Homo sapiens: one gene and its partners. The protein of the gene in region 2 interacts with the protein of the main gene of each other region in a biochemical or structural test. Each region holds a gene or a part of one and is shown on either strand. Other genes may lie near its edges. The genes, in order: ERBB4, ABL2 and SORBS2.

The links.
Region 1: the proteins of ABL2 (region 2) and ERBB4 form a complex in vitro, tested with the Homo sapiens proteins (2 studies listed by BioGRID and IntAct, with this or other methods).
Region 3: the proteins of ABL2 (region 2) and SORBS2 form a complex in vitro, tested with the Homo sapiens proteins (one study listed by BioGRID).

The regions. Positions count from the first base shown.
Region 1 is NC_000002.12:212,532,203-212,535,955, forward strand, and holds part of ERBB4 (receptor tyrosine-protein kinase erbB-4 isoform JM-a/CYT-1 precursor), read right to left. Parts: intron 1-3,753. UniProt on the Homo sapiens protein: Tyrosine-protein kinase that plays an essential role as cell surface receptor for neuregulins and EGF family members and regulates development of the heart, the central nervous system and the mammary gland, gene transcription, cell proliferation, differentiation, migration and apoptosis.
Region 2 is NC_000001.11:179,223,059-179,226,811, forward strand, and holds part of ABL2 (tyrosine-protein kinase ABL2), read right to left. Parts: intron 1-3,753. UniProt on the Homo sapiens protein: Non-receptor tyrosine-protein kinase that plays an ABL1-overlapping role in key processes linked to cell growth and survival such as cytoskeleton remodeling in response to extracellular stimuli, cell motility and adhesion and receptor endocytosis.
Region 3 is NC_000004.12:185,588,568-185,592,320, forward strand, and holds part of SORBS2 (sorbin and SH3 domain-containing protein 2), read right to left. Parts: intron 3,510-3,753; exon of another isoform or gene 3,338-3,509; intron 1,219-3,337; coding exon 1,112-1,218; intron 663-1,111; exon of another isoform or gene 587-662; intron 1-586. UniProt on the Homo sapiens protein: Adapter protein that plays a role in the assembling of signaling complexes, being a link between ABL kinases and actin cytoskeleton. Can form complex with ABL1 and CBL, thus promoting ubiquitination and degradation of ABL1.

The DNA of each region.
Region 1 (3,753 bases), on a different chromosome or scaffold from region 2:
GCTGTCAGTTTCCTTACCTAAAACATAAGATGACTGGATTACATCAGTGGTTTCTAGTGCCGGACTTCTATGACACCAGTGCAGGAGAGTAGAGGCAACAGTGAAAGGAAAGTGAGGGAATGTCAACGGCAGGGGCCTCAAAGCTGCCTCCTCCCTGCAGCTTAACTACACAGCTCTCTTTTTATTTTACCCTTTCAGCTGTTTTAGAAACTAGGGCTATGCCTATGACTTCACTTGGAACAACAACAACAAAAAAGAGGTCCACTTACAAAAATAATTAAAAACCAATAAACTTTTTTTCTAAAAAGTCTAAACTTTCCATTTCTAATTAATTGAATTATTAAAAACATTCAAGATGTTAATAGCTTAGGCATGACTTTTAGCTACACTAATAAAGGTAAGGCGATTGAGACAGAAGCAAGTAGTCTAATCCCAGATCACATAACAAATGATTGTATGACCAGAATCCAAACCTCCTAACTTTTAGTGCTTTATTCGCTAGCATCACACAATAGCAAGGCTGTTGCTGTACTACCCACAGCTAAGGCATGCACTATTCCTATTAAAGTCTATGTGGCTGCTGCCCCCTGGAGTTGTGCAAAGTGACAGGCCTGCAGAACAATTCAAAATGGAAATAACTCTAAAACAATTATTACATGCTACATAGCCTCTTTAGAATTAGTTAACAAAACATCCACATATTTCAACTCCATATTGTAAAAGGGACAGCTTTCCTCTCTTGAAAAGTTTGTATAAATATAAAGCACTAGTTTAAGTATCAAGTGTGAAAACAAGGAAGTGGCCTTAAATCTTGATTACAGAATTGGAAAATACGGCAATTTATTTAATAAATATTTCAGAATAACCAACAACTCAGAAAAAATAAAAGAGACCATAGAACAATTCTGAAAATAATATTTTGGGGAAATTGCCCTCAAATACAAATGCCTTTGAGTTAATAAGCTCTTTATTTCATTAGACAGGTACTCTTTTGATAGAGACAGTTTGCTAGAAAGTTTACATTATGTTTCTTAATATAGGTATACATGTTTTAGATTACATGTGCAATTTAGATTACATCTATAAAAACAATTTAGTGGAATGTATCTCAATATCAAAGACTTTAAAGTTATTTTCATAAAACTGTACAGTGCAGAAATAGTGCATTATATGCATTTCTCTCCCAGGCAGAGAAGCCAAGTCACAAAGAGATGCAGTGAGTTGCTGAAGGTATTAAGAAACTCGAGAACTGTCTCTGCAAGGTAGAAATCCTGATTTAAACAATGTGACTACGTCCCATGTCCCATTTAACCACAAAATAGGCAATTAAAGTCTCCCTCAAATTATGTTGAAGACATACAGTTTCAGGAAACATTGACCTACAATTTTTTCATAAAAAGGGGTTATTTTTCATTATAAACTGAAAACTCCAGTCAATAGCTGTATTAGAAATCATAAAAAGTAAGGTTTTAACTCTGACTGCCAATATTTATAATACTTCAGAAAATGAGTATTAGATAAAACATGTAATTTGGTTCCATATGGTGAAATGTAACATAATAGAGCATCTCTAAAATGATATAACCTGGAGAAAAGTTGTTAATATGATTAAATTCTACCCTGCACAGGATACTCAGTAGATCACTGTAAAAGATAACAGTGGAATATGCTTGGTGATTAATTTCTGTAGAACAGATGTAGGCTTGAACCTCTAAAAACTAATTTCAGTACAAATATTAGCATCTCAACAAAGCAGTATCTCTCAAAACTGGTAAAATTAAACAGAGCAAGTACCAACAAGTTTGTAGGTATCAGAAAATCCGTTTTGATCATTTATTTCATTTATGTTTTAGGCACTTACAAACTATACATGGATATCCAACAGTAGCAGAACACTATAATATAAAGCCAAAACTTATGGCTATTTTTAAGAACATGTTAACTTTTCCTAATAACCAGCTTGATATAACACAAAAATAATACCGCTTTAAAGCATTGCAATGTTTAAGCCATCCTAATTCAATTTATTGTCTAAAATATGCACTGTGCATAGCCATTAATCTCAAGGTGGCTCTAATCAAGCTTCCAAGAGTACTTAGAAAGAGCACAATTCATTGCCTCACTAGCATTTTTTAAATAGCAGTGGTCCACCTTCCTTCCTTGGTCAAGAGGGGAAAAGAAAGAAAGAAAAAGGGTAAGAGGGACTTCTCTGTGGAAAGGTTTGGCCTTGGAGTCAAGGCTTTTAAGATGTGCCAGTGATCTTGGATCGATGCCTTTTTATTTTCTTTCAGGAATAAATCTGAGCAATGGAATGGCTTGTGATTGTCTGGCCAACCAGCCATATCAGATTTATCAGAAAGAATGAAAACTGGCTCAGAGGACTCCTGCAGTGGCTGAGTGGCAGGTTACTGGGAAAGACACAAACAAAAACAATATACTTAGTGGCGGAAGGGAAAATATATATTAACACATGTAAACTCAATAAATACTAAGATGTAAAGAGAGAATCTATAGTAACAGAAAGGGTGAATGCATAAGACAGATGATAAATAGTACTTCTATTTAAAAACCAAAGGGATGAAAGCTCATGAATACTACATATTTGAATCCACTTTGAGGAGGAAATACGATTTTCCATCAAATAAATGCAAACTCTAAAAATCAGCCAATGCAAACTTACTGTGTTCAGGTTAGAATAAAAAATGCATAAATCTTCCACAAAGTTCATGCTCTGATAAATATTCTAATGTAATTTCTTAATTAAGACACATTTCCAGTGACTAAATGAAAATATATATATAAAGCAGTAAGTGCCTTGATTTTCAACAAAATTTCACTTTCTATGCATACATGATTAAAATAAATAAAAGCAGTTGAGTTTAAGAGCAAAAAAAAGGAATACTGATATAACTGGAGTCATTTCATCACAACAGAACAGTTATAGTATTTCCAAGCGATTTGCAGTTATACTAACAGATATTTATTTAGACATATTGTGAAGAAAAAAATAACACCTTCTTCTAAAAAGCCCCCTTTTATATATATATATATGAGAATTTCAAATTAAAAAGAAAACATTGTACCGATAGATGTGCTTACAGTAAACACTTGTAAGAAAGAGAATTGATGCTTTCTTGAAAATATATTTAACACCTTTTTCACCACTTAACTTTTATTAACATTTTTCTTCTCAAATGAAAAATAACCCCATGATTTTGGAGATATAATGATGTATCTTAAATATGTACGAAAGCTATATGTACTTTTATAGAATGAAAAGCAAGACTGAGTTACCTGCAAAAAAGAAATGGGAACTGAACTTGTTCATCGTTTATCTACTAAGGTATATAAGAGTACCACCTCAATGCTACTATACATTTTCTTCAATACCAAGGCAATATTGATAATTTTCCATTATACAAGGAAGACGAATTTTAGAACCATTCCTTTGGTTAGCAAAGGCTTTATAATTGCCATATAAAGGGACTTTGGCTATATCTAGATATATCTAAATAAAATGCATAATTGAAAATGAGACAAAGTCCTTTAGAATTTCTAAAAAACATCCTCTCTAATGCTGAATTTTTTTCCAAGCAAAAGAAAAAAGAGGTTCTCTTCTGTTACAATTAAGAAATATCTTAAAGATCTATACAACAGCATCCCCCGCCCTATATTTTTATTCTGTTCACATAGAGCAGTAAATAAGGTGCATTCCTTCTGCTTAAGAAATTAGCATTTCAAAAATATGCCACT
Region 2 (3,753 bases):
AAGATCGCGCCACTGCACTCCAGGCTGGGAGACAGAGCAAGGCTCCCTCTCAAAAAAAAAAAAAAAAAAAAAAGTCCAGATGCAGGGCCTCATGTCTGTAATCCCAGCACTTTGGGAGGCCAAGGTGGGAGAATCACTTGAGCCTAGGAATTTAAGACCAGCCTGGCCCAGTACAGCAAGACCCCATCTCTACAGAAAAATTTAAAAATTAGCCAGGCATGGTAGCACGCACCTATAGTCCCAGCTACCCAGAAGGCTGAGTCAGGAATGGCTTCAGCCAGGAGTTTGAGGCTGCAGTGAGCTATCATCATGCCACAGCACTCCAGCCTAGGCAACAGAGCAAGACCCTGTCTCAAAAAAAAAAAAAAACCACCTAAGTAAATAAATAAACTATCGAATAAAGCAGGCTGAAGACCCTTACAGAGAAACTTCAGACTTCATCACTTTACTTGGAATTTTACTGCCAAGTGGGCTATGAGAACAGAATCTGTACCACAACTTATTACTTTGCTAAAAATATGGACCCCAACTACACATCTATAACTTACACAGATTTGGAGATTAATAAAAATCTAACAGCTGATTTTTTTTTAAAAGTTTAGTCTGCAGGATTGGCACTCAAGAAAAAAAGAAAAATAAATAAAAATAAAAAATGAAGTTTAGTTCTTATATTAAGTCACCACAATTAAAATTCCCTCACAACAGCCTTCCTGTGCTTTCCATAGCATCGTTTTCAACCTGGGGTGCCAACAGCCTTCATTCCACAAAGATTAAAACATGAACTACTGGCCGGGTGCGGTGGCTCACACCTGTAATCTCAGGACTTTGGGAGGGCAAGGCAGGCAGATCACTTGAGCCCAGGAGTTCAAAACCACCATGGGCAACATGGCAAAACTCTGTCTCTACAAAAAAAAAAAAAAAATAGAAAGGCATGGTGGCGTGCACCTATAGTCCCAGGTATTCAGGAGGCTGAGAGGTGAGAGGATCACTTGAGTCTGGGAGGTCAAGGCTGCAGTGAGCCATGATCTCGCCAATGCACTCCAGCCTGGGCAAGAGAGTGAGACCCTACTCACTACAAAAAAAAAAAAAAAAAAAAAAAACTACAGATCCAAAATAAAAAATAAATAAATAAATCAGATCACTTAAAATAATGAGTTTGATTTAAGGAAAAATTTTTGTTATTCCAAACTTCATAATGTAAGGGTTTTTGTTTGTTGGTTTTTTTGGAGACGGAGTCTTGCTCTGTCGCCCAGGCTGGAGTGCAGGTGCGCGATCTCGGCTCACTGCAAACTCCGCCTCCGGGGTTCAGGGGATTCTCCTGTCTCAGCCTCCTGAGTAGCTGGGACTATAGGTGCCCGCCACCACACCTGGCTAATTTTTGTATTTTTTTAGTAGAGACAGGGTTTCACCATGTTGGCCAGGCTGATCTCGAACTCCTGACCTCAGGTGATCTGCCCACGTCGGCCTCCCAAAGTGCTGGGATTATAGGTGTGAGCCACCACGCCCAGCCTAAAGTTAATTTTTAATAGAATTTTTAGAAAATGAGAGAGGGAAGCTAAAGTAAAATCATTCAGCTGTTAAAAGGTATGTGAGATATTCAACAGCAAGTAAGTATTCAACCCTAGATTATTAGTCATGAAACATCAGCTCACCAGAAAGGTTTAATAGCAGAGCTTGCCTCTCGCAGTGGCTCACGCCTATAATCCCAGCACTTTGGGAGGCCGAGGCAGAGTATCACCTGAGCCTAGGAGTTTGAGACCAGCCTGAGCAACATAGTGAGACCTCCGTCTCTACAAAAAAAAAAAAAAAAACACAAAATTACCCAGGTGTGATGGCGTGTGCCTGTAGTCTCAGCTCCTCGGGAGGCTGAGGCAGGAGGATTGCTTGAGTCCAGGAGTTTAAGGCTGCAGCGATCTACGATCGCAGCACTGCACTCCAGCCTGGGTGGCAGAGCAAGACCTTTCTCTAAAATAAAACATAAAATAAAAGAGTTGACAAAAAAAATAGCAGATCTCAGAAAAGTCACACAGCACTCACTCCTTTCATACCAAAAATGGCTCTATTATTTTTGTTCCTTCTAAATTACATTCACAAAAATCACTTTTGGCAAGGCAAATTATTATCACAGCTTACCCACATATTATTAACGATAAAAAATGACCATTTTAGCTAAAGAAAGAAAAGTCCTGGACTCTGATAAACCATTTCCATAATGTATGTACCTTTTTACTGATTAACTAAATGTATTATTTGGCTTATATTAAAACCTACATGTAAACCCAAGAGTCTAACAGACCTAACATTCATATATGAAATTATGTGCTAATACCTCAATATGGCAAACTCAAGACAGTAATTTGTACACTAGATTCGAGCACCTACATTTACCATGTAAAGGTCAAATGATACATCCACTGAGAAGCTTTCGAATCTAATTCATTCATTCATTCATTCAATTCAGAATCTATCACATTTCTAAGTGGTGTCCTCAACTAGGGGCAATTCTGCCCCCCAAGAGATTTAACAATGTCTGGAGGCATTTTTATAACAAGTAAGGGGCAAAAAGAAGGTGCTACTGGCATCTAGTGGGTAGAGTCCAGGGATGCTGCTAAACATCCTACAATGCACAGGACAGCCCCCCAAAACACAGAATTAGCCAGCCCAAAATATCAATGCCGCCGAGGTTAAGAAACTATGACGTGGCCGGAAGCGGTGGCTCATGCCTGTAATCCCAGCACTTTGGGAGGCCGAAGAGGGCGGATCATGAGGTCAGGAGATCAAGACCATCTTGGCTAACACGGTGAAACCCTGTCTCTACTAAAAATACAAAAAAAAATTAGCCGGGCGTGGTGGCAGGTGCCTGTAGTCCCAGCTGCTCGGGAGGCTGAGGCAGGAGAATGGCGTGAACCCGGGAGGCGGAGCTTGCAGTGAGCCGAGATCGCGCCACTGCACTCCAGCCTGGGCGACAGAGTGAGACTCCGCCTCAAAAAAAAAAAAAAAAAAAAAAAAAAAGAAACTATGATGTACAGAAAAAAACTTTTTAAACCCATCTGTCTAAAAAACAGTACTCACTGCACCTTTGTTTCCTATATTATTTGCTAATTCCTTTCTTTTCATACTAGTCTTTGGCAATAAACTCGACCTATTCCCATTTTTTCAATCAGCTTCTAACTTCCAAACTTGTCAATAGAATCTTCATCATCCCAGTTAGCCAGGTTCTAAATCCTGGTGTCATCTTTGAATTATCCCTACTTTTTTTTTTTTTTTTTTTTTGAGACAGAGTCTCGCTCTGTCACCCAGGCTGGAGTGGCGCGATCTTGGCTCACTGCAACCTCCACCTCCCGGGTTCAAGCGATTCTCCTGTCTCAGCCTCCTGAGTAGCTAGGACTACAGGCGCGTGCCACCATGCCCAGCTAATTTTTCTATTTTTAGTACAGACGAGGTTTCACCATGTTGCTCAGGCTGGTCTCGAACTCCTGACCTCATGATCTGCCCACCTCGGCCTCCCACAGTGCTGGGATTACAGGCGTGAGCCACCGCACCTGGCCGAATTACTCCTGTTTTTAATAATAACAGTAGTATTAGTAATGGCAGCAGCTACACACATTTAGCTCATACTATGTGCCCAGCCACTATTCATTTAATACTAGGTACTATTATTATCACCACTTTACAAATGAAGAGTCCAAGACACAAAAAGTTAAATAACTTGTCCCAGGTCACAAAGCTCATAAGCAGCCAAGCAAGGTTTCA
Region 3 (3,753 bases), on a different chromosome or scaffold from region 2:
AGGCAAGCCATTTTACGTTTCTCCTCCCTCCTCCTCCTCCCTCCTCCTCCTCCTCCTTGTTTTTGAGATGGAGTTTCGCTCTTGTCGCCCAGGCTGGAGTGCAGTGGCATGATCTCGGCTCACTGCAACCTCTGCCTCTTGGGTTCAAGCAATTCTCCTGCCTTAGCCTCCTGAGTGGCTGGGATTACAGGCACCTGCCACCAAGCCCAGCTGATTATTGTACTTTTGGTAGATACGGGGTTTCACCATGTTGACCAGGCTGGCCTCGAACTCCTGGCCTCAGGTAATCCACCCGCCTCGGCCTCCCAAAGTGCTAGAATTACAGGCATGAGCCACCGCACCCGGCCTTTTTTTCTTCTTTTAATGGAAATAAAATCAGAGGCTTGTGGCCGCACCAGGGCCTCAATTCTTTCATGATTTTGCCACCGATGGATGTCTAGAGTGAGCCCTCCTCTCCTCTCACCTTTCCTCTCTTCCATTCTCTGCCCTGCAGCCTGTGTTTCCTTTTCACCTCTTTCTGTGGCCCAGTGTAAAATACTTTTGTCTACAAATGTTTTCCCAGAAGACCTCTCGTCTTTTTTTTTAGGATGGTAAAGATGAAGTTGCCTTTTAAGTGGGAAGAATGGAACGTCTCTCTGCTTCCACCACAAACTAAAGTTAAGGTGAGTCACTGAATGTTCGGGCATCTACGTCAGACCTAGGAAACGGGAGAGCTGTTCACTTAATCTCACTCCCTCTGAAATTAGATTCTCACTGTGGACAACTAACATTTTCCACAGCACAGAGCGTTGATATTTCTCTTCTGGGGACCATTTGTTGTTGTTGTTCTTAGATCTCAATCTTTCCTGGTTTTTGCTATTTAAAGAAATTGTCTTCTCTCAGTTGAGTTGGAAATAAAGCTCGCAGAAAATCACACATAGCTGAAGCAGTGAATACTAAACTATATTAAAAATGCAATAGCCTTGGGATTACATTGTGCATATGAATGTCTGAAAGATCAAAGGCATTACGAATTCAAAGGAAGCTCGGCCATCACAGCAAACCACGGGAGTGAGCAAACTCAAGCAAATTACAAAATAGCCGAAGGTGCCTGAGGAAGAAGCGCACATACCCACAAACCAGCCGTCATCACACTTTTCCATGACATCAATGACATCACTTTCTCTGAGCTCCAGCTCATCTTCATTCCTGGGAGTATAGTTATACAGAGCCTGAAACCTTAAACAGGACAAGGGAATGTGTTTAAAAACATCTTGACACCTTCATGAAATATAGAAGATAGAACAATATTCATTCTTCCTTTAACATTCCTATTCTTAACAACATTCTGTTGGGTGGTACAAGCCTGGTAAGCATGTAAATAGCATTCTATTGGATGGTACAAGCCTGGTAAGCAGGTACATAGCAATATGTAGATCTTCACAGGCATTAGAACACTCTAACAACATTTTGAAACTCACGAGGAATATCCATGAAAATTGTAACATTCATAAATTGGATTAAAATATGTCAACATGTATAAGTCAGACCCGCATTTCAGTTGTCCAGCCATCTAACGTCTATCATTTAGACATTAAATAATAGTACAAAATATAAAATAAGTGATATTTGTATTATTTAACTGTTTAAAAACAAGAAGGAATCACAATTTTAGCTAGCCATAATCAGAAGCAAATAATGGGGGCTTGAGAATTGAATTTTCAAAGGTTCTAAATGGAGATAGACAAAATGTGTCAGACATGTCTTTTTAATCACTCTGTGTGAATTACTATACAAAGGAAAATTATTTTTTTTACTAAGAGGAATTCTTTAGATCAGTTTAATGTTATGGTTTGGATCAGTGTTTTCTGAGGATGTAGAATTGGAAGATTTGATGTAATTAGCCTATGAAGTTGAGTAGATGTATTCTATGTGCAGTTATTACTGATTCCATTTCAAGCAGACTATGGACATAAGTCTCTTTTTAAAATGAGTCCCAGAAAAATTGTATTTGATTTTAAAACTCTCTCTTGAAATAATTTTATATAAAAAAGAATTATTGATAGAATGCTATCACTTTCCTTTCCCGGCCTGAATTCTTTGACAGCATATACTGTGGTGGAAATTGATCAATAATGAATTCAGACACTGAATTTGTGGTAAGAAAACACCATACATTATAATAAATAGTAACATGGGCTGGTGTTTTTGGAAAATGAAGGCGAAATTACTGTAGCTGAGAAGGTCAAGAAGAATTTGATAGGCAGTTAACATGAAAACTTCTTCATAATAGTACTAAAATATTACCAGTACTGTGAGGGGGTTTTTAAAAATTGGGAATTTGTTTCTGCTGCTTTCTGTAACAGTCATGTCATTCTGCTAATGTGAGAAAATAATTACCACTTTCTAGGGTATTTTAGATTTTTTCATGCCAACTTAAAAAAGTTGATAATCTTGACTACCGCTCCGGAACAAGAATGATTTATTTTTAATTACTTTATGAGTCAGAAAATAATATTTTGGTAGAACAAAACTATTCTATCATTTAAACTCAAATCTTATGTCATTAATAAGCAACAGTGACCTACTGGCTTCCCCCCGTTCATCCAGCATTTGGACTGGGGGAGCTGGATAGAGTTGGCTTCAGAGAATGCCTAACAACATCCCCTAGAAAATATTGTTTTCCCTGGCCTGGCACCAAAGCCTGAAATTTCAACATTAGAGGCTTCTTCTCCTGTTAAAACTTCATCCTTCCAGTAGACCTTACAGCCACTTATATCCTTTTGAGCATGGGCTTCTGAGGCCTTTTCTTGAGAGAGGGGTTTGTGATTATGGGGAAGGGCAGAGAAAGGCAGCTAGCATCCCAGAGTAGTGGCCAAAAAGACAGGCAGGTGTGGAATACAGAAACGTCACCTGATTTGGATGTTTGCATGTGGCCAGCTTTGCTAGGGGTAGTCCATTTATTTTGTTGCTTGTGTAAAGAATTTGATTTGGAGGCTGCTCAGGTGAAGGGGTGGTATCTTTTGTGTATCTGTGGGGAAAGTTCACGGTCCCTTTTCCAGTTTCACATTTGAGAGAGATGGTGGTTCCTGGGCTGCTGTTTTGATGGATACACACGGCATTTCTCACTTTGGGAAAACTGATTCTTTTATTGAGCTTCTCAGGCTTGAACCCTGCCCAGGCTCATCTCCACCCACTCATGGAGACCGGTTACCTAAGGCTGCAAACCTCAGCTGCTGGAAAGAATCTCAAGGTCTCAGAGCTAACGCAACAAAATTGGCACAGACTCCTGCTTCATTTTTGTCTGATGAAAGCCAGCATGTTTGTCCAAATTTATTTACCATTCTGGTTTAATTAGACCACAGAAACAAAAACAAAACAAAAGAAAACCCACGGAGTTTTATGGAAACGTAAACACACCTTCAGGAAATCCTCCTGCCTCTCCTGGCTTTCAAAGCCAGTGTTGCACAATGGGAAATGAAGACAAATCCAATGTTAAAAAATGCTGTTGTGAAAGATGTGTTGGTGAGGTGAGTGATGGTGGTGGGGTAAGGATGCCTCAAAAAGAAAGGTGTCTTTTAAACAGGAAATGCTGAGCCAGACTGGAAGCCCTCTCGATAACTTGCAACTTTTTCTAGAACATATTTCACTAAAACTCTGAATTGTAGTGACATAACATTATGTTCCTACTTTGGCTCAAAACTTATTTTTAAATGAAAGCAACTAAGCAACACCCTAAAATCCCACTAATTCAGGCTATAATCAAATATAAAT